Regions from separate parts of the Homo sapiens genome. Here all the other regions are linked to region 3. The links come from fine-mapping of genetic effects on gene expression. A gene starts in region 3. Each other region holds a variant in brackets. All regions are shown on one strand. Distances are between the middles of the regions.

Region 1 (8,189 bases), 24 kb after region 3:
ACTTTGATTTTTGTGCACTGCATGTCCTGTCTTCTTTCATGTCATTGATAGAAAGGTTAAACAGTTTCAAGGCATGATTTTAGCCCTTTGTTTGCTGGGAAAGATCTTCTGATTGGTTGAGAATCTTTTCTGAAACTTTTGTTGGGAAGTGTTCAGCAATTTAGAAATTGATGTAACTGCACGGCCTTTCAGTTTATTTCCAAATTTTATCTCTAGCTGTGTCTTTTCCCTGAACTTCAGACTTTTGTTTCCAATAGTCTTTCCCACTTAGCCAGCCTAACATATCCAAAGCTGGACTTCACATCTTTCATCTTCAGCTTTTCCTTCAACACTCTTCTTGTCCTCAAGAAATGAGAATAGTCACTCATGCCAAAAAATCATGGAATAATCTCAACCCCTGTTCTTCTCTTACTCCATATGCAATATTCAGTCTATGAGAAAGCCTGTCACACTCCATTCAGACTCTGTGTACCACTTCCCACCACTTCGCCTGCCACTGTCTTGGACCAGACTGCCACTGTCTTGTGCTGAAGTACTGCAAGAGCTTGCTAAATGGTCCCCTTGCTTGTGCCCTGGATCCCTTGGAGGTTTTCCTCCTCAGAGCAGCCACAGTGATTCCATTAAAACCCAAGTCAAGTCATGTCACAGCCCGGCACAGGAGCCTCTTATGTACCCTTCTTGATCTGAGTAAAAGTCGTCACAGTGGCCTTACATGTTCTGGCCCCATTATCTCCCTGACCTCATCTTTTTATAAGTATCCAGGCCAGTTGTCCTATAACAGTGTCCCACAGCCTGGATTTATCTGATTGCTTCCACATGACTACATTCAGGGTAACATTTTTGACACGTGTGCTACATGGGCTGTTGTATTCTCCCATTGTGTCACATGGTGGGGGCACTTCATGGCCAGCGTTACTAGTATTGTAAGTTTGAACACTCGGTTGAAGAGCTAGCTAGCATCAGCCAGATCTTGCCATTGTAAAGGTACCTTTTTCAACTTTCTTTACTTGTTTTCTTTTTATTTTACTTAAAAATTAAGTGTCTAGAAAATGAAATCAAGCATGATAAAGCACTGTCTTAAAGATCCAGAAGGGCCAGAATGGTAGTGCAAATCCAATTGCAATTTTAACAGGAATCAATATAAAGTACAGTATTTAGACTTTAAATATGGATGAACCGCAATGAAATACTACTTCATACCCACTAGGATGGCTATTAATAAAAAACAACAACAAAAGCTGTGAAAGGCTGGGCGTGGTGGCTCACGCCAGTAATCCCAGCACTTTGGGAGGCCAAGGTGGGCGGATCACGAGGTCAGGAGATCAAGACCATCCTGGCCAACAAGGAGAAACCCCATCTCTACTAAAAATACAAAAATTAGCTGGGTGTGGCGGTGCATGCCTGTAATCCCAGCTACTCAGGAGGCTGAGGCAGGAGAATCACTTGAACCTGGGAGACGGAGGTTGCAGTGAGCTGAGCCGAGATTGCGCCACTGAACTCCATCCTGGAGACAGGGCTAGACCCCGTCTAAAAAAAAAGAATGAAACAAGTGTTAAGAGTGTTAGTGATTATATGGAAAAATTGGAACACTTGTGCATTGCTGGTAAGAATGTAAAATGGTGCAGCCACTGTGGAAAAGAATTTGGTGGATCCTCAGAGTTAAACATAGAATTACTCTATGGCCCAGAAGTTCCACTCCTAGGTATATATCCACAGAGCTGAAAACAGGTATTCAATCAAAGGTTGTACATTACTGTTCATAGCAGCACTATTCACAGTAACCAGAAAGTGGAAGCAATTCAGATGTCTATTGACAGAAGAACAGACAAAATGTGGTCCGTCCATGCAATGGAATATTATTCAGTCTTAAAAAGGAAGGAAACTGACACATGCTACATCATGGATGAGCCTTGAGGACATTATGCTAAGTGAAAAAAGTCAGTCACAAAAGGACAAATACTGTATAATCCCACTCCTATGAGGTATCTAGAGTAGTCCAGTTCATAGACATAGAAAGTAGAATGGTGGTTTCCAGTTGCTGGGTGAGGATGGAGAAAGGGGAGTTGTTACTTAATGGGGACAGAGTTTCAGTTGTGTAAATTAAGAGGAGTTCTGGAGATAGATGGTGGTAATGATGGCACAACAGTATAAGTGTACTTAATTCCACTGAACTGTATACTAAAAAGTGGTTACGATGGTAAATGTCATGGTGTGTGTATTTGATCGTAATAAAATGCAAAGATAACTCTAATGCAGACATCCAGAAGGGAGTAATGTGTGGGGTGATCCTGTGGGAGTCAGAATATCCTGTTCCTCAACAGACTCTTTTACCTAGTGGTTGTAGCCTTAATTGATGATCCTTGTCTGAGTCAGTTATTAAATCGGTGGTTCCAAAATTCAGGTTGTTTTAAAAAGCGCCAACAGCCTCGTGGGGCCCTAATTTTGCATCCTGCTATTTGATTGGATGAGTAATTAATGCAGGGTGAGGTGCCGAGGTGGTGTTTCTAAACGTCTGTTGCTAAAGATAAATGTTGTAAATTAAAAAAAGAAAACATATGGAGCCCAGACAGGTTCCTTTACTGCTCCTGCCTGGCCATGGCAGGCTTTTATAATGTAACCCATTCTGCTCTGTCGCTTCCTGTTTCAGGCAGGCAATCCATGGACCTTGTGGAACTTGTGTCTCTTTTTCCCACGCTGGCTGGACTTGCAGGACTGCAGGTTCCACCTCGCTGCCCCGTTCCTTCATTTCACGTTGAGCTGTGCAGAGAAGGCAAGAACCTTCTGAAGCATTTTCGATTCCGTGACTTGGAAGAGGATCCGTACCTCCCTGGTAATCCCCGTGAACTGATTGCCTATAGCCAGTATCCCCGGCCTTCAGACATCCCTCAGTGGAATTCTGACAAGCCGAGTTTAAAAGATATAAAGATCATGGGCTATTCCATACGCACCATAGACTATAGGTATACTGTGTGGGTTGGCTTCAATCCTGATGAATTTCTAGCTAACTTTTCTGACATCCATGCAGGGGAACTGTATTTTGTGGATTCTGACCCATTGCAGGATCACAATATGTATAATGATTCCCAAGGTGGAGATCTTTTCCAGTTGTTGATGCCTTGAGTTTTGCCAACCATGGATGGCAAATGTGATGTGCTCCCTTCCAGCTGGTGAGAGGAGGAGTTAGAGCTGGTCGTTTTGTGATTACCCATAATATTGGAAGCAGCCTGAGGGCTAGTTAATCCAAACATGCATCAACAATTTGGCCTGAGAATATGTAACAGCCAAACCTTTTCGTTTAGTCTTTATTAAAATTTATAATTGGTAATTGGACCAGTTTTTTTTTTAATTTCCCTCTTTTTAAAACAGTTACGGCTTATTTACTGAATAAATACAAAGCAAACAAACTCAAGTTATGTCATACCTTTGGATACGAAGACCATACATAATAACCAAACATAACATTATACACAAAGAATACTTTCATTATTTGTGGAATTTAGTGCATTTCAAAAAGTAATCATATATCAAACTAGGCACCACACTAAGTTCCTGATTATTTTGTTTATAATTTAATAATATATCTTATGAGCCCTATATATTCAAAATATTATGTTAACATGTAATCCATGTTTCTTTTTCAAATCTAAAGTTAAAAAAAAATAGCAGAAGCCAGTGTCTTAAAGTCTATCTTTTGTTTCTAAGACCATGGGATTTCATAATCTCAAGATAAAATATGTATGAAGTAATTAATGTAGAATTTTTACACCAAATAATAAATAATGCTTAATAAACTAGAGATATGAGATGTGTAGGAAATTTGGTTAAACTTTTTTCAGATACTTTCTGGCCCAAATAATAATTTGTTAGCAAATAATATGACCCTTGAACTCAATGGCCATCTATTAAAAGACTGTTGTTCACACTGGAAAACATTTAAAGATGTGACTATATCCATGGGTGGATTGAATCACTCAAAATATATTAGTATCCTTCTTTAGGGATGGTTGGTTACAGACATGTATTTATTCAGGAGGCAGAAAATATTCCATTTTAATTGCTTATTAAAGAAAACATTAAATTCTAAATTATTTTGAGGACTGTGAAGACTTTTCATTAGTGTAATATTAGGTCATTGTCAATCTCCCAGAATGTAGTTCTATATTCTCTAAATATGAAAGTATCCAGAAAGGCCAGTGGTAGTAAAAAGCTTAGTGTATATAATCTCAAAAGGGATGGAATATTTACA[A/G]CTCATATTTATAACATGTTGAATCTTCTCAGTTATCAGTAGTCATCAGAAGTGTCAATAGCTTTCTAAATAAATATTAAATATCTACTGTCCTGTAGTGAAGGAGTAATTTTTAGTAATTTTCTCTTTACAAAGTCTCCAGTGTTTCCAGGTAAATATTTGTGAAACAAAATACAGCAAACTACATTGTTACTTCAGTGTATTGTTGCCAAAAATGACAAGATATTATATTAAAATCAGTAAATTTTAGACAGATTTTAAAAATTAATTAGCCTACAATAGAGGTTATATGGTAACACGGTGATCTTCTAAGCAGTTAAGTGACTGACTGTTCTGGCAACAACGACTTCTCCGTGACTGAAGGGCCCTGTTCATTTCCTGATCCTGAAGCTCGTCTCTCTTTTGAGCCTCCGCTTGCTTTGGTCGATGGTTTCCCTCAGCTTTTTCTTTGCTGTTCTTCATCCTCGTTGTTGCTGTCATCATGTTCACTGTGGCTTTTACAATACAGCCTGTAAATTCCTTATGACATAGTTCAGTGCATTTGGCTTTATTGCCTGCTCCACAGTTCTTTACCTTTACTTGGCTTAGAGAAACTGTATCTTTGTTGCTTCATATAACCTTTCCCCAACCCCACTAAGCTGGACATAACTTATTAGTGGTCCTCCCGTCACTTTATTTGTAGAAATCTCTCTTTCACATGAGCAGGGGTTCTTTCATGTGGTTTAGCTGACAGCAGAACTAGTGATTCTAGACATTTTGCATGGCCCTCATTCAGTGGCTCACAAACATGAGGGAGCATCAGAACTACTTGAGGGGCTTGTTAAAACCCAGTGCGTTAGAAGTCGGATGCGGTGGCTCACACCTGTAATCCCAGCACTTTGGGAGGCCCAGGCAGGCGGATCACTTGAGGTTAGGAGTTCAAGACCAGCCTGGCCAACATGGTGAAACCCCGTCTCTACTAAAAATACAAAAGTTAGCCGGGTGTGGTGGTGCATGCCTGTAATCCCAGCTTCTTGGGAGGCCAAGGCACAAGAATCGCTTGAACCAGGAGACGGAGGTTTCAGTGAATGAAGATCGTGCCATTGTATTCCAGCCTCGGCAACACAGCAGGACTGTGATTTTCTTTGGAGACTCCTAGATTTTCTGTGGTTTTGAACTGAATTTGTTGGATGTTGGCAAGTGCCTCTTATGAGCTGTTTCTTTATCCTGCATTTGCCCCACAAAGACTTATCTGGAGGTGAGCAAAGTATGTTTGGTAGTGAGGTCACAAAGGCAATCAGCCCCTTCCTCCCCACTCCCATTGCCATCTTCTCAGTCCTTCTCCCTTTCTTTCCAAGTAGTTTACCCACCCCTCCTCTTTCCTCCCCTGTCCCTAAAATAATCCACGTGTCTTCCTAAAATCTCTCTTTGATCCTGTCCTTTGATAACACCGTCAGTGCCTACTACTGGGTCTAGACAGACCTCTGTTGAGCAGTCAGAGTCTTCCCTGACTCCACAATGCCCCTTTCCTTGGCTGACCAGTATGACTACTGGTCCCCACCTTTCCCTTGCCTATCCCTACCTCCCTCCTACTAGGTTGTCCCATCCCTCTCTTCACCCATTCATTCATGACCATTTTTCACTACCAAGCTCCCCCCCTCCCGAAGGAGGCTGAGGTTTTTGTGACTCTCTAGACTCTATTGTGGGATGGAATGAACATTGCTAAAGAATCTTGTGTTCGCTTTACTTTAAAAAGGTATTTTTTTCCTAATTATAAAACTGATGTGTCAGTTACGGAAAAATTAGAAATGCAGCACAAATACATGAATATTTTACCACAAAATTGCCATATAATATCTTGTCTTTTTTGGGGGTGTGAATTTTTTGCATTGTTCTGGTCATATTCTTTATCATGTAATTTATGTTCTTTTTTACTAAGTATTATGTGTGGTTATTATAGATTTTCACAAAGATATATTGCTGGTAATATATTTTATTGTGTAGTCTTATAATTTACTTAACCTTCTTTCAATTGTTAGAAATTTAGGCTATTTCCAGATTTTCAGTATTGTAAATAATGCTGTGATGACCAATTTTGTGAATAAAATGTTTTTATGTATTTCAGATTATTCCCTTAGGATAGTCTCTCAGTGCCAAGTTGTCAAAAACATCTCTATTTTGCTTATCTTCCTGCTCTCTTGCTGCCTTAGGGGGTAGTAAACTGAAACATAAAGTAAACATGCATACAAATAAAAAACATAAAACAAAAATAAGCAACCTGATGGTAATAGGTGAAAGTGGTAACCTGTTTTAACTTTGAATTCTTGCCGGGCGCGGTGGCTCACGCCTGTAATCCCAGCACTTTGGGAGGCTGAGGCGGGTGGATCACGAGGTCAGGAGTTCAAAACCAGCCTGGCCAAGATGGTGAAATCCCGTCTCTACTAAAAATACAAAAATTAGCCGGGCGTGGTGGCGGGCGCCTGTAATCCCAGCTACTTGGGAGGCTGAGGCAGAGAATTGCTTGAACCCAGGAGGCGGAGGTTGCAGTGAGCCAAGATCGCGCCACTGCACTCCAGCCTGGGTGACAGAGCGAGACTCCGTCTCAAATAAAAAACAACAAAAAACAAAAAAAACTTAAAATTCTTTGCTTGTTAGTGACCTTGATCATGGTTCTCTTTGTACGATAGTTGGGCATCTGTATTTCCACTTGTGTGAATTTGCCTTTAAATTTTGGTTATGGGTTTCACCTTTTAAAATAATCAAACATATTTATCTTTTCCTGTGTGATAGGTTTTTTTCTGTATCTTTTCCTGTTAAACACACAGACCCCTCCCCAATCTGGACATTGAATAAATATTCATTTTCCTTTGCATTGTTTGGGGTTTGGTTTTATGCTTACTGTGTCTCTCCACCCCATTATCAGAGTAATATATGCTCATTGCATAAAATCTGGAACATGTGAAAACTGGAGATGAAAAGAAGCCCAGCATTTGAGACATACCCACTGCTGACATTTGTATATTTCCTTTCATTCTTTTACCTGCCTAAAGACATATATGCAGATATGGACATATTTAGCTTTACATACATGCAGACTACCACATATAATCTATATCTTGTTTTTTTGATCTAACACAATGTTAGCTTGGTTTTTTATGTCATTGACAGTTCTTGATTAACAGCTGTAATGGCTGCACAGCCCTGCTTCATTAATTTTTTTTTTTGGACTGAAATGTATGTACCACGTTCCGCTTATCCATTCATCCACCAGTGACCACTTGGGTCATTTCTACCTTTTGGCCATTGCAATAATGTTGCTGTCAACAAGGATGTACAAATATCTGTTCGAGTCCCTGCTCTTAATTGTTTTGGGTATACACCCAACCTACATTAATCTTTAATCACTTAAGATGTTGGGGTTTGTGCTGGGAGGTAACCAAGTGACTCTGGAGCAGCCTCACCCTAGCTACAGAGGGAAACTGACTCTTCCCTCTCTGCCCAATCTTTTGCCGCCTGTCAGGTTCCCAAGCTGTCCATACCTTACTGTGTGAAGCGCTTTGGGTATAAACTCCCAAATAGAGGCTCAGCCCCTTTTCCTTTCCCAAGTCCATCCTGCAGGTTATAGCTCTTCAGAGGAATCTCTTGAATTCTGGCCTGGGATCTGGGATTAAAGTAGAACCCAGGGTGTCCCTTGGGGCCTTAGGCATAGCCCGTTGTGGTGGAACCTGCCATCAGCCCCACTGCACTCAGTGGTCCCCTGGTACTTCAGGACAGTTTCTCTCTTCTGCACATGAGAACTTCAAGCAGAGAGGACTGTCAGTTGTTGCCTTCACATCACCAATCGTTTGGCCATAATGGCCAAGAGCCCTCACTGCTCTTGGGTCTTGCCTTTCCACATGTTACTGAAAGCTCCCGTTGGTGTCCCTGTCCACTAACTCACCTGATGGGACAGATGCCACTTTCC
Region 2 (8,189 bases), 21 kb before region 3:
ATGAACTGGTTAGTCTAGAACATGGTTTTCAAACCTATGTGGCCATGGAATGTCATTTTGGAGGGATGCTTTCACAGGATGTAAGATTCTGAGTTGAAAGTTTTTTTTTTTTTTTTGAGACAGAGTCTCACTCTGTGGCCCAGGCTGTAGTGCAATGGGGCAATCTCTGCTCACTGCAACCTTTGCCTCCTGAGTTCAAGCAATTCTCCTGCCTCAGCCTCCCAAGTAGCTGGGATTACAGGTGCATGCATGCCACCACGCATGGCTAATTTTTGTATTTTTAGTAGAGACAGGGTTTCACCATGTTGGTCAGTCTGGTCTTGAACTCCTCACCTCAGGTGATCCGCCTGCCTTGGCCTCCCAAAGTGCTGGGATTACAGGTGTGAGCCGCTGCACCCAGGTGAAAGCTATTTTCTGTAAGCCCTTGAAAAAAGTTGTGCCACTTCCTTTTGGTATCCATGGTTTGGTAAGGTGTCATTTCTCTCGCATTGCTTCCAAGATTTTTTTTTTTTTTTAATGATTATCATTATTATTATTATTTTAAAGACAGGGTCTCCCTTCATTGCCCTGGCTGCAGAGCAGCATTGCAATCATAGCTGACTGTAACCTTGAACTTTTGGGCTCAAGCAATCCTCCCACCTCAGCCTCCCAGGTAGCTAGGGCTACAGATATGAGCTACCATGCTCAGTTAATTTTTTTTTGTTTTTATTTAATAGTTCTCAGAAGTTTAACTCAAGTGTTTTAGTGTGGAATTTCTTTGGATTTATTCTCTTTGGGATTCGTTCAGCTTCTGAAGTCTGCAGAGTTATGTCTTTTGTCAAATTTGGGAAATTTTCAGCCATTGCTTCTTTGATTTTTCAGCCCCACACTTTTTCCCATCTCCCCTGGAACCCTTATGACACAGATGTGAGATCATTGTTCATAGTCCCACAGGTCCCTAAAGCTCTGTCCATCTTGTTTTCCCATGCATTTTCTATTCATTTTTCAGAATGGGAAATTTCTGTTCTGTCTTCAAGTTCACTGGTTCTTTCCTCTGTTCTGTCTATTCTGCCAGTGATTCCTTTATAGAGTTTTTAAAATTTCAGTTATGGTATTTTTCAGTTCTAAAATTTCCATTTGGTTCTTCATTATGTCTTCTATTTATTTATTTTTTTTTTGGCTGAGACTTTCTATTTTTAGTTTGTTTCAAATGCGTTCTTAATTGCTTAATGAAGCATATAATGGTGGCTTTCAATTTTTTTACAGATAATTCTAACATCTTTGTCATCAGTGTTGACATCTCTTGATTGTATCCTGTCATTCCATTTGAGATCTTCCTGGTTCTGGGTATGATGTGTAACTTTTGATTGAAATCTAGAGATTTTCATATTATGTTAGTAGGTTGAAGGTGTTATTTAAACTTTGTTTTAGCTGGCATCCTCTGACATCACTCCAGCAGAAGAAAGGGAAGGAACACGCTGCATTACTGCGTGGTGAGTGCAGTAGTCTACCTTCGCCACATGGCCTCCATTGATCCCTGAAATGGGTGAGGGGCTCCTTGTTTCTGCTGGGCAGGAGTGGACTTTTTGGATCTGATCTGGGGCTGTACTCATACCTTTGTGGCTGGGAGGGTTCGATATTTTTCAGCACTGTATCCAATATCACCTGCACAGACACCTTAGGGGATGGGGACTTGCTGTTGCCTGGCAGGGATGAAAGTGCCAGCTCCCTAATTGGCCACCTCCGACAGCACCAAGGTAGACAGGAGGGATGTTACAGCTTAGCAAGCATGTTACACTGAGCCCCCTAGTTGGCCTTTGCTGGCATGTGTGGAAGTGGGGATCAAACTATATTTCTGTGGTGTTAACTAGAGTAAAGCAGCTCACTGTCTAAAAGTTTTCTATCTTGCTAAGTCACAACTTTCCTGGTCCTCTGGCTTTGGTCCTTCTTTCCTCCCTCCCTTCCCGTCCCCCTTTCCTCCCTCTTTTCCTTCATTCCTTCTTTCTTCTTTCCTCTGTGTTTGTTGACATTTCTAGATCCCAGCTCCTTCAGCTCCATGTCTGGTATATATGGGCAAAGAAAGAAAAGAGAGAGGGAGAAAGAGGACGGGAGAGAAAGGGAGGAAGGGGAAAGGAGAGGAGAGGGAAAGAAAGAGGGTAGAGAGAGAGGGAGGGAGGAAGGGGAAAGGAGAGGAGAGGAGAGGGAAAGAGAGAGAGGAGGAGAGGGAGAGAGAGAGAGAGAGAGGAAGGGAGGAAGGGGAGAGGAGAGGGAAAGAGAGGAGGAGAGGGAAAGAGAGGAGGAGAGGGAGAGAGGGAGAGAGAGGAAGGGAGGAAGGGGAAAGGAGAGGAGAGGGAGAGAGAGAGGAAGAGAGGGAAGGGGAAAGAGAGGAAAAGAAAGAGAAAAAGAGAGGGGAAGGGAGGAATGGGAAAGGAGAGGAGAGGGAAAGAAAGAAAGAGAGAGAGACACACACCAGAGAACTAATTAACTCCATTGTTCCTCAGGTCACAAGGTCCCCGTCTGATCTGCCTTCACTCCACCTTTCAGAGTCTTATGTTTGTTTTGTGTATATTATCAAGGGGTTTTAGGTCACTTAGTCGGAAGAATAGGGAAAAGTATGTCTACTCCAGCTTAATGGAAGTGGAATTCTCCTGAGAACCTTTTTTTGATACAAAATATGTACTTGTGCATATTTTGTATCAAAATATATAATGTACATGTCCCTTTTGTACATGTATATAAATTGTATATAAATATTTAGGGTTATAAAAATAACCAAAGACACCAAAAACTGCCACAGGTGGATTTGAGAAGATGTGGAAATGCCTCACTGCTAAGACATGCTCATTCTTGACAGGCTGGGAACCCTGAATGCTGTAGTGTCACCACTGCCCTGTCCTGTACCTACCTATCTTTTCACTCATTTCCTCCAAGCTCAGGTTTTCAGTTTGGGGTATGTGCCACCTAACAGTGAGCTGTGGAACTGCAGCACAATCATCAAATTCAAAAAAGGCAAGGACATCTTGCTCAGTTTTTAAGATACGCCATAGATGGAGTAAACCATAACCTTTGATTCCAGATCCTTAACCCTGATTAAAAACAACACAACCCTTCATGTTGATTTAAAACATCCCTTGCAAAAGATGGTTTGAATATTCCAAGTTGGAAATACCCAGTCTTTTAAAGTTACAGCACCCTTTTTGATACAAAAAATGTGCATGACAGAAATTGTACAGTGAGTAGTGTTATAAAAATAACCAAACACACCAAAAGCTGCCACGGGTAAATTTGAGAAAGTGTTGAAATGTACCGCACAGCATGAGACCTTGCTGGCTCCGTCTAATAGATGACGCTGGGGCTGCAAATGATGTCCCAGCCTTCCAGGGCCTGTGGTCTCCAGAACAGGGCTGAAACCTGTTCTGAGTTGACAGTGCTTTCCCAAGGAGACCCCAAGTTGAGAGGACCCTCTTACCCACTCATCAATAATCAAAGCAGACTTGATGCCCATCAGAGATGCCCAATGATTCTGGTGAGCCGTTCCTCCCTCTGGCTGTCAGTACTGGGGAGTATGGTGGGGACTTTCAGATAGCTCAGTGAAGCTCAGAAAGAGAGGGAGTTCCCCCTGACACCCGCCCCAGTCAGTAAGCCCCGGGGCCTGAGGGGCATCCCCACTGCTCGACCTCTCCACTCTCTCGGGGAGGACGAGGCAGCCTTGACCCACGAGGGCTGATGAATGGGTAGGTTATCGGCAGGCTCCTAGGCCACCAGCTTAGAGGTCACATTGTCCCTTTTAGATTCAGTGTGGCGGGAATCTAAAAGGTCGAGGATCGAGAAGCCTGCAGGATGGCAA[C/A]GTGAGGGACCCCGGCAGTGCGACCTCAGGAATCCACTCCCGGAACTCTGACTGGGGTGCCTGTGGAGGCTCTGAAGGTACAGCAGCCAGGCGCTCTGTGGCATTCTGAATACTGGCACGCAGCCTTCGGCCTCTGCCAGCTTTTGTGAGCTGCCCTGCACCAGGCAGAGGGGGCCCCCAGGCCTGGCACAGGGTCTGACACATGGCAAATGCTACAGAAATAGCTGTGGACCGCCTGACTGCAAGATCGTATTGAACATCTGGTGCCGGGCCTCAGCCTGTGCTGCTGCAGCCAGGAGCAAATACGGGGAAGTCTGGCTAAGGAGAACGCATGCCTGTGTGGGCCCCAAGGATCCATCTTGAGATCAGGAGGAACAAGAGCCCAGTGACCTTGACAGCCAGCTCAGGCAGCCTGTTAAATCCCATGCCCAGAGGTTTCTAGCTTCTGCCCCAGAGGCCCAAGATGAGGATGTGGCAGCACAGGTAGGCCAAGGGAAGGATGAACTCAAAGAGAGGTGGCCAGACCACCTGAGACACCTGTTGAAGTGCGCTTTCCCATTCCCAGACCTGGGAGCTTCTGAGACCAGGTGCAGAAACCAGATTACACTCATCTTTCTGACCTAATTCACAGAGTGGATAGCAGCCCCCACCTAAGCACAGCCCCCTCACTGGGCAATAAGTCAGCAACAGCAATGCTGGCCACACGGGAGGCCCTCAGGTGTCCTCACCCCACCCCTAGGTTTACTGACAGGTACCCTGCAGGGGAGAGGGTGGGGCCCTGAGCTGGACTCCACCCAACACTGCCACCTCCCCAGCCTGTGTCCTCCCTACCACCCGAGGAGCTGAAGGACCCAACAGCACACCCTCAGTGGTTTCTGAAAGGAAGCAAAGTTCTTTCTACCCTTTTTCACTTTGGGTGAAAACATGTGGCTGGGTTGACAAGTCGGTTTTTTAGAAAGGAAGCACTGACTAGCGAAGGACTCGCCCAGCCAGAAGAGGGCTCTGCAAAGACAGCCCCATCCCCAGGATGGGAATGCTGGATTCAGACACCACAAACCAAGAGAACCCAGACTCTGGACGTGGAGCAGTACCAGGGTGAAAGACTTTTCCCACCGACATGGTCACATAGCCATTCTCCTTGAAGTACTGGGGGATGGTGGAGAAGTTTCCAGCGTGCACCCTCCAGTAGGAGTTGAAGTCGTACAGGCGGGTGGTGTCAGGTCTCCTGCCAGTGAGGAAAGAAACGCGGCTCGGGGCGCACACTGCTTGCTGTTAGGGAGCAGAAGCAGAGGTAAGCATCGCCACAGCAAAACATGTCTGCCATCTCTTAGGTAACCAAGCAACCGCCCTCCCGAGGCCCCTAGCAAACAGCTTGGTAGCTGAGTCATGCAGAGCTCAAACCAGACACTGGGATTTGGGTGTCACCTAGGCAACAGACTGCTTCCGGGAGAGAAAAGGGAAGCAATCAGCCCCTGAAACCAGCAGTTGCTTATCTCCTCCTACGCAATGGCCTCCCCAGGCACACAGAGCGGCCAGTGTTGCTGGGGGCAGAGCCATGAGGGGGTCCAGGGAGCAGAGCCACCCTGGCTAGCTCTCACCTGAGGCCCAGTCTGCAGACCTGTGGGTGCCCTTCTGCAGCACCCCTTCCTTCTGAGCACCAGGCAAGCGCCCGTTCTGGGAGAAAGCTGGCCAGGGCTGCCATGAACACATCAGGGCCAGGGCGCACCTTGCACCCAAGGAGAAGGCCACCCTTGAAGGTCAAGCTTTCCCATGAGTGGAAAACCAGATTTTCTCCACTACCATTTTCCAGACTATGCTTCCCTCTAACAAGATGTCCCGCACAATCTGTGCCATCTGACAGTAGCTGAAGCTCCCCGCCCCCAACCCTCAGTGCACGAAGCAGCACACACCCACAGCTAGAGGTTCCCAGACATACCTGCGCAAAGGCATTCTGGAAGAGGAGGCTGTGGGATGCCAGTTGGTCAATGTTTGGGGCCTTCACTAGTTCATCCCTGCAACTTGAAAGGATAGGACATGTGCTTTGGAAAATAACACCTGTAGCCAGCCACAGTGGCTCATGCCTGTAATCCCAGCACTTTGGGAGGCTGAGGCAGGTGGATCACTTGAGATCAGGAGTTCGAGGCCAGCCTGATCAACATGGAGAAACCCCATCTCTACTAAAAATACAAAATTAGCTGGGTGTGGTGGTGCATGCCTGTAATCCCAGCTACTCAAGAGGCTGAGGCAGGAGAACCGCTTGAACCCGGGAGGTGGAGGTTGTGGTGAGCCGAGACTGCGCCATTGCACTCCAGCCTGGGCAACAAGAGTGAAACTCCATTTCAAAAAGAAAAAAAAAGAAAAAAAAAGAAACCACCTGTAATAGAGTGAGGGAAGTAGAATTGGGAGGAAAGTGGAGTTGTTTTATGACAGTTGAATCAGACGTCTCAGTCAGTCCCTGAGGGAGCTCTATGGTTGGGAAGATTCTATAGAGATGTTGCAAGTAGAGGCTGGAGTCCAGGTGTTGGTACTCTCCACCCTTCATTGACCCCTTGACTGATATTTGGAGAGAGACTTAGTTATGTGCCATCATCAAGCAACACCTTTGGCAGGCAGTGGAATGATGACCTCCACCATTAGGCTGGGCTGTGGAACGACCACAGCATTGACTACAGCCCATGCCTTGCAGGCCTCAGATGGGCTTGCTTCACACAGGATGCTCCCCTCATTTGGGAATAACTTCTCCAGGGTTTGGCTTGGCCCTTTTCCTAGGGAGGTGAACATGAGGCAGGGTAGTGGGACGGTGTATGGCCTGCATGACTGCAGCTGGCTTTGAAGCCACAACTGATGCTCATGGTCTTCTTCATCTACTATCCATTCTAGAGTACCCTCAGTCTCAGCCACCATGTCTGCCGTTCTCAGTGACCTGGCTGGTCGAGTAACAGACCTTTATCCCTGAGGATTGTTTCTGAGCCCATGGTCCCCGTGCCCTTCTCAGACTGTGGAAATTGCATGTGTCCATTTACCATAAAAATTGGGCAGGGAATTATTAGGAGACATTCAAATGGATCACCTGGGTGCCAAATATATCCTTCTCTGTTCACAGTGTGTAAGAACAACCCTGCCTCCTCCTGATGATCAGAGCCAATACCCCTGACAGAGTGGCTACTCTTCTTTACACCTGCTTAGTCCCACAGCCATAGCAGGAGGAATGAACCCAAGGTTCCCATGACTTGTAATTCAGTTATCAGCCATGGCTCGTAATTCAGTGGGGCTCCTACTGTGTCTACTGGTGGAAGCATTTCCATTTGAATAGCCAGGATCCACTGTTCAATAAGGTAGCCACTAGCTGCATGTGCCTACTGAGTACTTGAAATGTACCTGGTGTGTCTGAAGAACTGAATTTTAATTATCTAAAATTCAGATAAAATAACAACTAATTTTATCTTAATTTAAATTTAAATAGATGAATTTGGCTAGTGGTGACTGTATTGTGGGGACAGGAAGCACAAATTCCCATGTGGATCACTAGGAGAGATAATAAGTGGGGTCATTTCACCCCTTGGTCCCCTGCTTCCAGACCCAAAGAGGCCTACATGGCATTGTGCTTCCTTCTTAGTTGTAGGAGGTGTGAGATACAATCATTTGCCTCTGACTTTGGAGGGTTGGTCCTAGCATGCCCCTGACCAGTAGCCCCTTAAATACTTCATTGATATGGAAGGTCTCTGAATCTTCGTGGGCTTAATCTACCACTCTCTGAAGTGCTTATGTCTTTCAAAGGCCTCTAAAATCTCTGCCATGTCTTGCTCATCCAGTTGTTAGCATGATGTCATTGATACAGTGGACTTTGGAATCTAAGTGGGGAGACACTGGTAAGTGACCAATTACTTCACCTGTGGTGTGCAAGCCAGATCAGGAAGCCTCTACCATTGCTTTCCTGTGCTGGGAAAGCTATTTTTAGTGTGTAGACTTCATGCCAGATTTGCCCAGATCAGGGGCGGGATGCCCAGAGCTCCTGGTTATTGGAAGTGCTCTACCTTGAGTACAGAAATCCACACCAACTCACTCCCTTCTCCAAGGGGACCCTCACCCTGAGGAATTTAACTGGGCCTTGCTAACATGCTGGGAGAATGTCCCTGAGAAAAAGAGCAGTGAAGGCGCACATGAATTTCCTGTTGCATACCCACAGTGGGCCAGAAACAAGACCATTGGATTTTTACCTCGTACTTTTGATGTTTGGCAGCCATTGATTCTAGTTCGGGGGTGAAAGATAGAGATGACACATGTATTGGAACCTTTCTTGGGGACTGCTAGTCTTAGGGACAAACTGCCAAAATCAAGCTAGGCAATGGTGGCCACAGCTATG
Region 3 (8,189 bases):
CCAAGAGCAAGGGGACTCCCTTTGCTGTATGGTACCCTAGAAGGTCCAGAGTCCTAGAACTCCTCTCACACCAAATCCACATATCTTAGCTGCAGAAGTGTCTGGAGCAGTCCCCTGAGCTTCCTGTGACACTAAAGTGGCATGGGAAAGCAGTTGAATTTTCCCGTGCCTCCAAGGAGGTAAGAGAGGGAGGGAGAGAGAAAGAGGGAAAGAGAAAGAGGGAGAGAGGGAGAGGGAGAGGGGGAGAGAGAGAGCGAGAGGGAGAGCACGTCTCCAAAAAATGTCACATAGAAAATGGCATGGACTGTGCAGCTAGGAACCAGGTTAGAATGACGACACCACATTGGAAGACAGCATGAAGGTATGCCATCTCTGAGCGCTGGATGGGATTGTACATTGGGAGTGGATGCTGGCATGGACAGGTTGCCATTGACAACAAGCAGATTCTCTTCTCTCTTGCTCTCTCTCTCCGAATTTAAGAGTCTCACAGAATTTAGGTGATAGGCTGGGGCAAAGGAGACAATCCTAAATTGCTTGATAACAATAATTGGTAATTAGTAAGACAATCCCGAAGTAACTGGGAAAATGTGGAATTGACTAGATTAAATTTTCTGTTATCTGTTGGAGTTGAGACTCAAGATAGGGCTCTTTTGTGGTAGATGCCATTCTAGATGGCCCCCAAGTTTCCTGCCTCCTAGTGTATGTGACCCCTTGTGTATGGGTAGAATGTACTACAATCAGCCTCCTTATCCATGTGTTCCACATCTGTGGATTCAACCACCTGTTGAATTTGAAAAAGATGGGTGGTTGTCTCTGCAGTGAACATGTACAGACTTTTTTCCCTTGTCATTATTTCATAAATAATGCAGTATAATAACTATTTACATGGCACTTACATTGTATTAGGGATTATAAGTAATCTAGAGGTAATGTAAAGTATACGGGAGGATGTGTATGTATGTTATATGTAAACACTGCACCATCTTATATAAAGGACTTGAGCACCTGTGGATTGTGCTATCCACAATCCCGAGCTTTAAGTGAGAATGTAGTCCTTCACTGCAGCCTTTTGAGACCCTGAACCTAAGACCCAGCTTAGCTGTGCCTGGATTTCTGACCCACAGAAAGTAGGAGGTGACAAATGAGTAGTGTTTACAGCCACTAAGCTTGTGGTCATTTGTTACATAGCATTGATTGGCCCTTATCCCTCATTCACTGAAGACTCAGGTACCAGGCTCACAGGTGACCTTGGTACCCTGTGTCCTGTCATCATTCTGGGGGACTGCAGTGTATTCATCAGCAGCCTGTGCCACTCACAGACCCTTGACTTCTTCCTCATCTCTAACCTCTAGCAATCTCTTCCCCCCCACCTCAGCCTCCCAGCTTCAAGGCCACATCCTTGACCTTTAAATCACCAGGATCTGTTTTACCTCAGAAATCTTAAATTTCAGGGTCTCATTCTGGGACTAAAACCAGTACTCTCACACCCTTGCTGCCTCTCTATATCCTCACCCATCTCCTAGATCTTTGTTTGTCCCCAGTCCACCAGTCTTCTTAACCACTGTCAGCCACCTGAACTGCTCTCTTACTGGCTCTCTCCACTTGCTCCCACTCTTGTCCTTCTGCTGCTATGAGCCCCAGCAAAACCTCGAGCTTACACCAGAGCAAACAAACAACAAAAACAAACACACACAATTGTGCCAAGTGGCATATATAATTTTCTATCCCAGCTGAGACAATCAATCTTGTTAAATTTTGAATTGTTTATAGGTAGTGTTAGTTTTCTAGGGCTGCTGTAACAAAGTACTACAAATTACATGGCTTAGAACAACAGAAATGCATTGTCTTACAGTTTTGGAGGCCAGAAGTCTTAAATCAAGGTGCCAGCAGGACCATGCACCCCCTGAAACCTATAGAAGAAGAATGCTTCCTTGCCTCTTCCTAGCTTCTTGTGGTTTGCTGGCAATCATTGGCATCCACTGGCTTGTAGATGCATCACTTCAATCCATTGTCTTCACATGGATGTCTTCTCTCTATGTGTTTGTGTCTGTGTCCAAATTTTTTCTTTTGATAAGGACCCCAGTCATATTGGATTAGGGCCCAACCCAATTACCTCCTTTTAACTTGATTACCCTGTTAAAGACCCTGTTTCCAAATAAGATCACATTCTGAGGTACTGGGTGTTAGGACTCCAACATACAATTTTTGGGGGGAGGACACTAACACCTAAGTCAAAAAGGACCAAAAGACATACCATACAAAGCAAAGGCCCTCTGCCCTGCACCTTCCCTCTTCTGTTCTCATTTTAAATGTTTCTACTTTCATTTCTTCTAGTAGATTGTCCCTGTCTTTCTAAATACTATGCTATTTCTATATCAACTTTCTAATGTTTTCAACTTTAGACATTGCTGACTTCTTCCTATGATAGATGAGATCACTTATCCATTCCTCTTTTTATGTACATATTTTTAACCTTGGATTTTGGAAATTGATCAAACCTATACAAGATTACAGAAAATAGTATAATAAACCCCAGGTGTTCATCAATGAACTTCATTGGTTATCAACTCATGACAAATTTTGTTTCATCTCTCCCTGCCATTTTCCCTTCTCCTTTTACTATATAGATTTATTGCCATTTTTAAGTTTTCTATTGTTTACTTTTGTATCTTTAAGTAATATCCCTAAATCTGTATTTCTCTTTCTATGAACTGGGGACAGCGACTATTGATTTATTATTATTATTATTATTATTTTTTTGCGATAGGCTGGGGCAAAGGAGACAATCCTAAATTGCTAACCCTAAATTAATGTGCCTACATTTCCTGCCATCTCCCTTCCTCCTCCCAGCTTTTTGTCAACTGTTGCTGCAGGCCAGGTTCCCAAGGAAGCTGACTAAGATGTAGAGTAATGTGCAGGAAGTTTCTTAGGGAGTACTCTTAGGATCAACACCTGTAGAAGGGGAGGGGAGGGAAGAAATCAAAATTCAACAGACAGAGAAAGTGGGCAGTCTCAAAAAAGGCTTCAGTTAACCCCACAGGGAGCTCTGAAGCTGAAATGGCCTTTCAGAGATGTCCCAAGTTGGGGTAAGGGGCTGCACCTTTGTACCTTCAAGTTGAATCACTGATGTGGGCTTCCTGAGAACAGGGGTGACCTTGGCTGAGGTACCTATCTTTTTCTAAGACAATTTCTGATGAGGGCTAACGACAGCTAACAGCTCTCAAGCCAGCTAGGGAAATAAAATTTTTGGTGTTGAAGGGAGATCTGAGCAGTGCACCACAGCACCATCACAGCTGTATTTGTACCTTCCCATTGTCCATTGTTGTTTAGTCATAATTAAGTCATCTGGGCTTTGTTATAGATTGATTCTCAAAGTTGAAAATCAAACTGTGTTTGCAGTATTAGGACGGTATAATAGTATTCAGTACAGTACAGTGTAGGGCTAGGATTCCATCTCCCCACAATTGCTGCTCTCTCTGTTTGGCGCACCCTTCTTGCAGACCTCAATGCGGCTTGCTCCCTCACTTGCTTCAAAATTTTGTTCAAATGCCACTTCACTAGTGAGGCCCTGCCTGGCCACCCCATAGAAAATAACAAGCATGCCCCGCACCCACGCTTTATTTTTCTCCAGACCGGGTATGCCCACCGACACTCTCTATATTTTTTTATTGTTTTAAGCTCCACCAAAGCAGGGACATAGAGCCCCAGTGCCACCAACAGCGCCTGGTATACATATTTGCGATACTTAATAAGAATTAGTTGAAGAAATGAATAGGAAAGGGAGTCCCTTTAGATGGAGGAAGGGACTTTCTCAAAAGGCCTCATGGAAGGAGAATGGCATTGAGGCTGGCTTACAAGAAGTGTGTCTTTTATAAAAAGAAGGAAGGGCAGGGCTTCCAGGTGAAAGGCATAGCACAAGCAAAGGCAAAAAGACGGGTAACTGCTAGTTGTTAAGGGCAGTGGCTGAATCGCTATACCCCTAGCAGTTCTACACCTAGGGGCCTGCGGGCCGCTGGGTCTGCGAAGCTTGCAAGGCAACTGGCCCGCCCCCGCTCTGCGCCTGTCTCTCGGCCACGCCTATTGCTGCAGGATGACGCGCACCTCTAGAACCCGCCCCGGAGGGGAGGGACGCAGGGAAGAGTCGCACGGACGCACTCGCGCTGCGGCCAGCGCCCGGGCCTGCGGGCCCGGGCGGCGGCTGTGTTGCGCAGTCTTCATGGGTTCCCGACGAGGAGGTCTCTGTGGCTGCGGCGGCGGCTGCTAACTGCGCCACCTGCTGCAGCCTGTCCCCGCCGCTCTGAAGCGGCCGCGTCGAAGCCGAAATGCCGCCACCCCGGACCGGCCGAGGCCTTCTCTGGCTGGGTCTGGTTCTGAGCTCCGTCTGCGTCGCCCTCGGATCCGAAACGCAGGCCAACTCGACCACAGGTGCCGCCCACGCCCTCCCTGCCATCTCTTCTCCCTTCCTCCCTCCCTTCCTTCCTCCTTCCTTCTTTCCTTCCTTCTTTGTTTATATCCATTCTTTTTACCCTTCCTCTCTCCTACCATTCCTTCTTTCATCCATCATTCGTTCCCTCCCTCCATTTTTCACTCCTTCCTACCGTCCCTTCATCCCTCCCTTCCCTCTTTCCATCTATTCATCCATCCATCTCCTATCCCTCCGTGCTTCCCTTCCTCTTTCCCCCCATCTTTCCCATCTCTATCCATCCATCTTTCCCCCTCCTTTCCTCCCTCCATTGGTCCATCCGTCCCTTTTACCTTCTATCCATTCATATTTCTCTCTCTTCTCCCCTCCTTCTCTCCATCCTTTCTTCCCTTCAGCTATTCATCTTTTCCTCCTTATCTTCCTCCATCCAACCATCTGTCCTTTCCTGCATACATCATTCTCTTTTTTTCCTAAATTCATCTTTCCTTTCCACCATCTTTCACTCACTATCTCGCTTCCTCACCCAGGTTGGAGGCCATGACCAAAGCCTAACCCTGCCACCCAGGACTCAGGCTTCCTCCTCGAGCCCCACTCCCACCCTTGCTGAGGCACAGCGCCCTCCCTGGCTAGGCTGTTAAGGTGCAGGGTCCAGCCTTGGGCCTCTTAGTAACCTAGCACCTACCATGAGGGAGGGTTCAGTGTCAGTGCAGGTTACCTCACCAAAGCCCCTCCCTCCTGTGTAGATGCTCTGAACGTTCTTCTCATCATCGTGGATGACCTGCGCCCCTCCCTGGGCTGTTATGGGGATAAGCTGGTGAGGTCCCCAAATATTGACCAACTGGCATCCCACAGCCTCCTCTTCCAGAATGCCTTTGCGCAGGTATGTCTGGGAACCTCTAGCTGTGGGTGTGTGCTGCTTCGTGCACTGAGGGTTGGGGGCGGGGAGCTTCAGCTATTGTCAGATGGCACAGATTGTGCGGGACATCTTGTTAGAGGGAAGCATAGTCTGGAAAATGGTAGTGGAGAAAATCTGGTTTTCCACTCATGGGAAAGCTTGACCTTCAAGGGTGGCCTTCTCCTTGGGTGCAAGGTGCGCCCTGGCCCTGATGTGTTCATGGCAGCCCTGGCCAGCTTTCTCCCAGAACGGGCGCTTGCCTGGTGCTCAGAAGGAAGGGGTGCTGCAGAAGGGCACCCACAGGTCTGCAGGCTGGGCCTCAGGTGAGAGCTAGCCAGGGTGGCCCTGCTCCCTGAACCCCCTCATGGCTCTGCCCCCAGCAACACTGGCCGCTCTGTGTGCCTGGGGAGGCCATTGCGTAGGAGGAGATAAGCATCTGCTGGTTTCAGGGGCTGATTGCTTCCCTTTTCTCTCCCGGAAGCAGTCTGTTGCCTAGGTGACACCCAAATCCCAGTGTCTGGTTTGAGCTCTGCATGACTCAGCTACCAAGCTGTTTGCTAGGAGCCTCGGGAGGGCGGTTGCTTGGTTACCTAAGAGATGGCAGACATGTTTTGCTGTGGCGATGCTTACCTCTGCTTCTGCTCCCTAACAGCAAGCAGTGTGCGCCCCGAGCCGCGTTTCTTTCCTCACTGGCAGGAGACCTGACACCACCCGCCTGTACGACTTCAACTCCTACTGGAGGGTGCACGCTGGAAACTTCTCCACCATCCCCCAGTACTTCAAGGAGAATGGCTATGTGACCATGTCGGTGGGAAAAGTCTTTCACCCTGGTACTGCTCCATGTCCAGAGTCTGGGTTCTCTTGGTTTGTGGTGTCTGAATCCAGCATTCCCATCCTGGGGATGGGGCTGTCTTTGCAGAGCCCTCTTCTGGCTGGGCGAGTCCCTCGCTAGTCAGTGCTTCCTTTCTAAAAAACTGACTTGTCAACCCAGCCACGTTTTCACCCAAAGTGAAAAAGGGTAGAAAGAGCTTTGCTTCCTTTCAGAAACCACTGAGGGTGTGCTGTTGGGTCTTTCAGCTCCTCGGGTGGTAGGGAGGACACAGGCTGGGGAGGTGGCAGTGTTGGGTGGAGTCCAGCTCAGGGCCCCACCCTCTCCCCTGCAGGGTACCTGTCAGTAAACCTAGGGGTGGGGTGAGGACACCTGAGGGCCTCCCGTGTGGCCAGCATTGCTGTTGCTGACTTATTGCCCAATGAGGGGGCTGTGCTTAGGTAGGGGCTGCTATCCACTCTGGAAATTAAGTCAGAAAGATGAGTGTAATCTGGTACCCAGGATCTATAGGGTCCCAGAGACGGACATTCCTTACCTCAAATGCTGCCTGATAAACTGGCTCTCTTTAATGCCAATATGGGGATAGTGAAAAGCAAACAAACTTTAAAACTTTTTATTTATAGAAGTAATGCATGAGTATTTGAGAAAAAAAATGGAGAAAAAAGTATTGGAAGACAAGAGCACCATAGGGACAATAATGCTTATCATTTGGGAATGACGAATGTTTTCAGTCTCTTTCCCTTTGCTCAGTGGTTACACCGGCAGGCTTGGCAGCCTTCTGCAGGAGCTCAGCTGGCCAGCCCAGGTTGAGAGTGACATTCAGCTCTACTAAGTCAGGCCAGTTTCAGAGGTGAACCTGTCAGGAATCATATTGCACAGCCAAAAGTCCAGTGTCAGGAGAACTTTCTGCAGTTTGGTGTTCTCATTACCATACCCCTTGCCCAAATGCAGCTGGAGGGAAGTGATGATTTTGGAGAGAGGAGGAAACACAGCAGAGGGAGGAGATTGTGCTTTGGGAGGGGAAACCAGGCAAGGACTGAGTGATGTTGCTTGACCTCCTCCCTCCTGATGATTGGATTTTGGCACCAGGCTCTAAGCACCATGTCCTTCTCAGAGAATAAACCTTTCCCTGCAGCCCTTGTGGGAACACATTTTTCAGCTGAATCTTTGTTCTCAAGACCTTTTTCTGTTAGCATTGGGCCTGCTTCAAGATGACAGTAGCCACCACTGTGTGCCAGGTATGTACCGTTTACCATGCTGGCCACTCCTTTAATCCTCCCAACAGCAAGCAAGGTGGGTTTTTATCATCATCATCATTTCCCAAGGAAGACATGAAGGCTCATGGGAGTCAAGTAGCTTGCCAGAGGTTGCAAGGATGCTAAGAGGCAGCATCAGGATTTGGACCTGTGGTTGTTGGCTTCCTGTGTGCTCTTTCCACAGTGCTTGCTGTCTTCATAGGCCCTCCACCCGCTGCCCTCTTTCTCTCCATTCCTGTCTCTTCTGGTACTCCCTATGGGAGTCCCACTGTGTGACTGCTGCTGATGCTTTCTCACGAGGTTCTGCCTGTGATCCCCTCCACTCCCAGCTAACCACTATAGGCAGCACTTCCCTTCAGATCCCTCACAGGCCTCACTGGCTCCTAGAAGTCCTCCCTGCCAGTCCTCACCTGACTCACAATAACCTCTGTGCTTGGAGGATCCCCCACTTGGCACTTCGATGCTTTTGAAAGCTGGAAGTCCTTCCTTGGTTTCCAGTGCTGTTATACTGTCTTCACAAATAAACTATAAACTACTAAGCTTAAGGGTGGGTTTCTGCTTCATGAATGAGCACTTGAACTTGGAATTCTAAAACAAGGTTTTGAGTCCTGGCTCCCTTATCTAATATCTGGTTAGCATAGGTAAGTCACATACCTTCCCTGAGCCTCCCTCTCCTGCCCCCATCGGCTCCCTGATGGTGCTGATGCCTCTGCTGCCTCCTTCATAGGGTGAGAGATAGGTTTCAGCATGGGCTCTAAGGAGCTGACTGATCTTGTCCTTGTGGGT
Region 4 (8,189 bases), 510 kb before region 3:
ATGCGGTGTTTGGTTTTTTGTTCTTGCGATAGTTTACTGAGAATGATGATTTCCAATTTCATCCATGTCCCTACAAAGGACATGAACTCATCATTTTTTATGGCTGCATAGTATTCCATGGTGTATATGTGCCACATTTTCTTAATCCAGTCTATCATTGTTGGACATTTGGGTTGGTTCCAAGTCTTTGCTATTGTGAATAATGCCACAATAAACATACGTGTGCATGTGTCTTTATAGCAGCATGATTTATAGTCCTTTGGGTATATACCCAGCAATGGGATGGCTGGGTCAAATGGTATTTCTAGTTCTAGATCCCTGAGGAATCGCCACACTGACTTCCACAATGGTTGAACTAGTTTACAGTCCCAGCAACAGTGTAAAAGTGTTCCTATTTCTCCACATCCTCTCCAGCACCTGTTGTTTCCTGACTTTTTAATGATTGCCATTCTAACCGGTGTGAGATGGTATCTCATTGTGGTTGTTGTGGGGTGGGGGGAGGGGGGAGGGATAGCATTGGGAGATATACCTAATGCTAGATGACGAGTTAGTGGGTGCAGCGCACCAGCTTGGCACATGTATACATATGTAACTAACCTGCACAATGGGCACATGTACCCTAAAACTTAAAGTATAATAATAATAATAATAATAATAATAATAATAGAACATTAATCTCCCAGCATGGCCCTCCCTTCTGAGCATGGGGTCCTGTGTAAATGCACTGGTCACATGTCTATTAAGCTGGTTCTGTCTCTGGCAATCCTAATGTGCAATCATGGTTGACAATACCAAGCTATATACTAAAAAATCGGTGGTCAGGTTGGTTTTGCTCAAACTCTCAGGCTGCCAGAGCTTCCACAGAAAATAATGGATGGAGACACTGACCTAACAGTATCTGAGAGGAGATCAAACTGGGTATCATTGCCTAAGGCAGTGGCATTATAGTGATCACAGTAAGTAAGCAGGAAGGTCAAGTCCTCAGTTTTGAAGAAAATCTCTAATTATCTCTCCCTCTCAGAGCCCATGGTCCTATCTCAGTACCTGCTGGTTGCATGTTGGCCTGCCATGCCCAATGCGAGGGATTTTAAGACACAGGTTATATACATCTAATCAAATTGCAGGTGCCAGATAAGCCACAGAGGCCACCTTTCCCAGACTCTTCTCCTCTCATTTATTTTACCTACCAGCAGGCCAAGAAAGGACCTCAGGCTGCTCCAGGCAGCCACCTGGGTCCTGGGTCCAGTGCTCATCAGCCAAATTCCAGAACTAGAATATACAAACCCTCTCACTTCTAGCCCCCAGCATGATCAAGTTCCTCAAGGGCCTTCTTTCTTTGTTATCCAATCTTGACTCTTTTTAGAACCTTTTAGCCTGTGTCAACTGCTCGGCACATAGCAGGCACTCACTCAATGGTTGTAGCCTGATGGATTGGCTCACTTTTGGCTTGCTCACGGATCAGTTCTTACATTCTCTCCCCTAGCTTCCATTGCCTTCCTTGGCTCCTCATTCAAGCAGAATGCCTTCCACCTCTCAGCATTCTCTCTCTGACCTTTCCCTAGTACCGAAATGTACCCTTATGATACCAGTATAACTGCATTTACATTACAGGGCAAAGAGAAATAAACTGAGTACATATCTGGAGATTTATCAGAGGCCCTTTCTGACACCACAATCAAGTGGAGTTTATCACAAGATTGTAAGGTTGCTTCAATAATAGAATAATTCAATTGATATAACTGATCATACTAAGTCTAAAAAGGCCACATAATTGTACCAATTGATATAGAAAAAGCACTTGACAAAAGCCAACATCCATTAATTATTAAAAATAAATCTCAGCAAACTAGAAATAGAAGTAAACTTTTCTCAACTTGAACATCTCCAAAAAACCTACAGATAACATCATACTTAATGGTGAAAATCTAAATGTTTTCTCCTGAAGACTGGTAGCAATGTAAGACATCCACTCTTACCACCTATTCCACATCATTATGGAAGTCTTAGCCAATGCAATAAGGCAAAAATCAATCAATAAAAGGCACAGATATCAGAAAAAAAGAAAGAAAACTCTGTTTGTAAACAGCATGACTATCTACACAGAAAATCTCAAGAAGTCTACATAAAAACTCCTAAAAATAAGTGAGTACTATAAAGGTGATGGAATACAAGTCAACACACAAAAATCAAGCATATTTCTATATACCAGCAATGCACCACTGAAAACCAAAATTTAAATATATGTATACATTTAAAATTTATAATAGCTCAAAACAAATTTAAATACTTAGGTATAAGTGTAACAAAATATGTACAGACTCTGCATCCTGAGAACCATAAAACCCTGATGAAAGAAATCAAAGAAGATTTAAATAGAGTTATACCATGCTTATGGACTGAAAGAAACAGCATAATTTAATGCAATTCTAATCAATATCCCATAGAACTTTTTGTATTTACAGATAAGTGGAATGTAGAATTTATATAAAAAGCAAAGGAACTAAAAGAGCTAAAACAATTTTAAAGAAAAAGAATAAAACTGTAGAAATAACATTAACTGATTTTAAGACCTACTGTATATACACAGTAATCAAGACGGTGTGGTATTGTCAAAGGGAAGGACACACAGATCAATAAAACAGAAAACAGAGTCTAAAAATTGGCTCACATAAACATAGCCAACTCATTGTTGACAAAAATGCAAAAGCATTTCAATGGAGAAATGATATGTTTTTTCAACAAATGGTGCTGAAATCATTGTATAACAGTATGAAAAAAAATAACATTAACCTAACCTTACACCTTAAACAAAAATTTACTCAAGGTGGATTATAGATCTAAACATATAACATAAAACAATAAAATGCTTAGAAAAAAATAGGAGAAAATTTTCCTGACCTTGAGTTACTTGAAGAGTACTTGGATATGACATCAAAAGCATGATCCATAAAAACAGAAGTTGATAAATTGGATTTTATCAAAATTAAAAAGTTTTGTTCAGTGAAATACACTGTTAAGAGAATGAAAAGACTAGCTACAGACTAGAAGAAAATATTTTCAAATCACATATCTTACAAAGGCCTTTTATCTAGAATATAATAAAGAACTCTCAAAACTCAGTAGTAAGAAAAAAGTCCACTTAGAAAATGGGGAAAATACATCAAACATTTCAACATTACATTTCAACATAGATGTGTAGATAGCAAATAAGCACATGATACTTTCAACATTGTTAACTATTAGAAAAATGCAAATTAAATCTGTGATGAGATAGCACTGCATAGTTGCATAGTTGCAAAAGAGACCTCATGGCCTTCAAAGCCTAAAATATTTACTTTCTAGGGCTTTACAGAAGCACTAAAATATGCACTTATCCACAGTGTTCTCAACACATCTGGTGGGCTACAAACAAACACTGAGTCCACATTTCATGTAT[G/A]GCTATCAAATCTGATCAGAACTCTTACCAGTACTGGACAGTATAGGAACTGCAGAGCAATTCCTGAGGGTTTGCCCTCAGCTTAAACACACACTTCCACCCGCCCCCGCCACTTTTTACTATGTAAACACCTCTTTACCCTTTAGGACTTAGCCCAAGCATCACCTCTTCCTGAAGTCTTCTCTGACCATTCATTTCCACTCCAGGCTGGGAAAGGAACCTTCTCTTTATTCCCATGATACCCTCTGCATGCTTTTGTCACTTTGAAATAGTATTTGCTATGGTCTGAATGTTTGTGTCACTCCCAAATTCATGTTGATACCTAATCCCCAAAGTAATAATATTAAGAGATGGGACTTTTAGGAGGTGATTAGGTCATGAGGGTGGATCCTCATGAATGGGATTAGTGCTCTTATAAAGAGTGCTCAGAGAGTTTATTAGCCTCTTGCCCTTTTCACCGTGTGAATATGCAGCAAGAAGGGACCATCTATAAAGGAGAGAGCCTTCACTAGACAACTAAACCTGCTGGCACCTCAATTTTTGGACTTTCAAGCCTCAAGAACTGTTGGTGATAAATTTATGATATTTATAAAATTTTCCAGTCTAAGGTATGTTGTTATAGCAGCCCAAATGGATTAAGAGTGTTTTATAACTGTTTGCTTGTCCCTCTCTCCAACAAGAGTATAAGCTCTTTAAGGAAAGGAAAAGTATCAGTCTTTCTATCATCGCTACTCAGTAATGGTGATAGAAATATAGTGATGGGTATACTTCATAAGTGCTTATTGGATGAATGGACAGATGGTTGGATGAATGGATAGACGAGAGAGAGAGAGACAGAAAGAAACTGAGAGAGAGAGGGTAAGTCCATTTCCTAAAGTCACACAAGTTTTATCCAAATTAGGACATCCCTTAAGAGCAATCTCATCATCTCTCTACTGTGGGATTATTTGATATACTCTCTCACCCAAACCACGTGTGTGTGAGTGTACATGTGTGAACCTACTTTTGTATGATGTTGTGACAAAAGAGGACTTATTTTACCAGCTGCAACCCACAAAAGGAGACACCAAAGCCAGAGCCCAGTTATCCTCATTTGACTCAGACCCTCACTGTGACTGTGCATGGTAGCCCCACTATTAGGGTTGCATACTAACCCTGGATTATAACCTCTTAGCACTCACAAGATCACTCAAATTCCACTTGCCTTCACTGAACATATATTCTATGCCAAACTGAGTGTTGGATACTTTCACATCAAATGCCTCACTGAATCCTGTATCAACCCTTGGAGGTAGGTAGTGATCATTACTTCCATTTTAGAATAAGAAAATTGAGGCATGAGTGGTAAACAGAGAACAGATACTCAGCTCAACGGGAAACTAGATAGTAAGGCACTTAAATCTTAATCCTAGATTATACCATTTTGATGTCCCATTATGAAGCCATATTATGAGTCAGGGAGTTATTAAACGTTTAATTAAAGGTTTTTGGAAAGAAGAAAAGTTTTCACTGCAATAAGTAGCACTCTAGGTAGGGGAAACCTGGTCATCTGAGTTGATCCTGAATTAGGGGCATTTGCCCAAGTCATTGGCTTCCGTGCCTGCAAGGTACAAAAGGAGAGATATCACCTGATTAAAGGAAAGACTCTATGGTTGACCAAGGGCCTACATGTTCTAGGGTATGGATGGGGGAGCTCATGATGTCTTTGTCTGCAGGAGAAGAGATATTCCCAAGAGTTTCTTTCAAATTAAGAGATAAAAAGCGGAAGAAGTAAAACAGAGAAGTGAAGGAAAGAAAAAAACACCATAAAATGCCATTTCTTCTGCCTTAGCAAGGTCAGTTCAACACAGTATGTCTCTCCTCTTGCTTCCTTTCTAATCTCACTCCTTAGATCACGTATAAAGTATTTAGCTTTATTACTTTTATTAAGACATAATCATTAGTGTAAATCACAAGGTCAGAAAGCCATACATCTTTAGGGAAATCCAACTTGATGTGGTGATCAATAATTTGTGTATTCAGGATCATCAACCTCACTGCACCTTTTAAGCATCTATCAAAACTAGTGTTGATGAATGGAAATACTCCCTTCAATTTTAAGTAAATCTTAGGGCATAAATAATCCAAGCTCAGACAGCATTCTAGTGACAAGATAGGCCAAACCAAAATGGGCTACACAAGTGTAAAGGCCTTGTGTTAAGAATTGTTGAACCATATTTCACTCAGTGTAAAGGTTTTCATTTGAAGTAGATTTAATACAGTCCATTCCAAACAGGCCCTTTGCAATTCATTGGGAGCTTTAAGAAGGTGGGAAACTTTAAAGGCACACTTTATTCTAAAATCCTTTGTTGGACACCTGAATACATACAATGACAATCATTAGCAAGAATAAAGGTTTTATCTCATTTCCACAGTACATTTTACTTAATATGTCTCCAATCAGCAGTGCTCTACCTCTGGAATTCCAAGCTCAACTTGTATCTAAGCACTGTCAAATGAAAAGGAGATAATAAAATTACTAGTGTGTTGCAAGGTGATTAAATTTACATAATGACTCTGGATTTGATCAAATGCCAGATCCCCCTCTAAAAAAATTACCTGTAGAGGCATTAAATCTTCCAGCCACACACACTTCACTGCGTTTATGCTTTATCCACAGAAGCTCCCGTTTATCTTAGCAGAGATTACTGCCATCCCACCACAGGAACACAGCATGCAGGTAATGCCTGGAAGCTTATTTAGAAGAGTGGCAGGGGCTCATGCTGCTGATTTGCAGAATAAATATCAGAAAAATGTGAGAGAGACATTGTGTTCATCCAGAGAACAGACTGTACTACAGACTCAGATGCAGACTTTTTCTACTCTACCAAAAATGGAATGGCTTCTTAAAATGCCATCCAAACACGTTCTCCTGAAACTCAAGGCTTCCCCACTACTAACAAACTCTAAGGAGCTTACCATGAGCGGGCCTTTCCAGGAGCAAACTGGTGAGAATTCAGGCTATGGTGTGTCAGATTTGGAAATCCATTCCTGTCAAGCTGGTAGGTAACTAATGCATGTTCTCTCATCCTAAATATCATCTCAAAATAGGATTGCATAGTGGGATATTTCCCTGTTGCTTGTTTGCTGCATGGCCCTGGATGGCAGTCTTTGGAATAAAAACAATCACACAAACAAGTAAAAAACCTATGCATTATAGTAATGACACACAGCCAAGCAAAAGGCACCATGATACAGCTTCCAGAATACTCATCATGCCTATTGAAAAAAATTACACAACCAAAGAGCTCTGAAATATGATTTGCTTCTAGAACATACCACTGCAAATTGGTGGTACCAGCTCAGAGAGAAAAAGAAGTCTTACCACTTTCCAATAAAACATCAAGAATAGGGACTGTAGCATCAGCATGTTGTTGACTGGGTCCAGACTGCTTTTGTCAGATAAAAGCAATTACTTCTCTACTATGACTGATGTAAATTGGTCACTCCACATATCCCTAGCTTCAGTAACAGGCAGAGTCTTGGCTGGACAACTACTAAAACCTAAACCCCACTAAAGCTCTTGCTGTTCAATGTTCTATGTTATCCATCCCTTTCAAAGCATCCCACTGTTTGCTATTAAATATGCACCAATCTCTTGCCAGTCTTCTGTAGAGATTTATTTTATTTTATTTATTTTCTATGCAACAAAAGCCACATTCAAAATCTTCTGTAAAGATTTAGAGGTAGCTATGGTCCTCCTACAGCCTACCTACAATACACCTGTACTGCATTCAGTGAAGATAAGACTCAAGTCTCAGGTCAGCATTATCAGTAAATTTTAGAGTTAACCACAACTGTAGCAGGCGGGTTGCCTCAGCAACCTGTAACAATACTTTAGCATATGTCCAACCAAGAGTACTTATGAAATAACCTATAAAAAGTGCCATTATTGGACTACTTTTCATGCGTGTAACAATTTGTATATAAAAAGACCAAATTTTCAGTTGCCAGCACCAAGTAAGGACTATATACTAGTGGATTAATGATTTCTAGGCAGATTTTATTGCACTTAAGAATATGTATGAGTACAATAAATAAATAGTTTGAGAGGATACATGATGTCTTTTAGTATTTCAATTTTTTATTAGTTGTTAATTTTCGTAATAGTCATTTGGAAGGCTAAAACTGAAATTTGTTTCCCTGAAAAAATGTTTTTATCACATTGGTTATTATGGAAGAGTTGTTGTGAGTCATGAAACTGCTGTGTTCCATTTTTCTTTAAAAAAAAAAAAAGTCCCCAGGGAACTCAGGGAATTAAACTCATAAATTTAATTTCAATATCTGGTAAGCTGTGAGGACAATTATTAAGGCAGTCATTTATGAGTATCTAGGGGAAACCCAAGTGATAAACAGTAGTCAATACAGATTCTTCAAATACAAATCATGCCAAACGAAGCTAATTCCTGTTCATGATAGAATGACAAGCTGAATGGTGAAAGAGGATGGAGCAAAGTTAACATATCTTGGAGAGAGAAGCATCTGATATAATTTAACCTGACATTCTTATAGTAATGTCAGAGAAAGACCATAAATAGAGCTGGTAAAGAGAAATCTGATGGCATAGCTAGACTGGTTTGGTGTAAGCTCAATGGAACATGTTACAGAGTAGGATAAATTCCAGATGCAATACCACCCAGATCATGCATAACCACTCTTAGGTTATATCAACACAGACTGTAATCATAGTCAATGATTATACAAAGTATATGTA

Which allele goes with the higher level. Positions count from the first base shown, and alleles are read on the strand shown. Sizes are in standard deviations (SD) of each study's normalised expression. Not every link is listed here.
With allele C in place of A in region 2, the expression in testis of the gene that starts at base 4,154 in region 3 is higher (small effect, 0.13 SD a copy in GTEx).

Evidence for each region. PIP is the estimated chance that this variant, and not a neighbour inherited with it, causes the effect.
Region 1: its variant is fine-mapped to the expression of IDS in whole blood (TOPMed, PIP above 0.99).
Region 2: its variant is fine-mapped to the expression of IDS in testis (GTEx, PIP 0.92).
Region 4: its variant is fine-mapped to the expression of IDS in whole blood (TOPMed, PIP above 0.99).

What each region holds. Positions count from the first base shown.
Region 1 is chrX:149,477,677-149,485,865 of GRCh38, reverse strand. IDS (iduronate 2-sulfatase) reads left to right here. Exons shown (of 9, transcript NM_000202.8): 9 at 2,648-8,189. The coding sequence ends at 3,120. Among named protein-coding and RNA genes, the nearest start is that of IDS, 24 kb to the left of the region's middle. The variant A/G (reference allele first, on the strand shown) is at 4,247.
Region 2 is chrX:149,522,650-149,530,838 of GRCh38, reverse strand. EOLA1-DT (EOLA1 divergent transcript) reads left to right here. Exons shown (of 10, transcript NR_027455.5): 8 at 1,246-1,326; 9 at 1,411-1,472; 10 at 2,481-3,248. It also overlaps the pseudogene IDSP1. Among named protein-coding and RNA genes, the nearest start is that of EOLA1-DT, 13 kb to the left of the region's middle. The variant C/A (reference allele first, on the strand shown) is at 3,827.
Region 3 is chrX:149,501,271-149,509,459 of GRCh38, reverse strand. It overlaps IDS (iduronate 2-sulfatase), which reads left to right and starts at 4,154. Exons shown (of 9, transcript NM_000202.8): 1 at 4,154-4,425; 2 at 5,167-5,303; 3 at 5,971-6,148. The coding sequence starts at 4,323. RefSeq lists enhancers at 4,250-4,409, 4,402-4,903, 5,027-5,575 and a silencer at 4,966-5,065.
Region 4 is chrX:150,014,346-150,022,534 of GRCh38, reverse strand. It overlaps EOLA2-DT (EOLA2 divergent transcript), which reads right to left. Exons shown (of 12, transcript NR_027456.1): 10 at 6,395-6,584; 11 at 6,035-6,198; 12 at 5,748-5,924. Among named protein-coding and RNA genes, the nearest start is that of EOLA2-DT, 80 kb to the right of the region's middle. The variant G/A (reference allele first, on the strand shown) is at 3,437.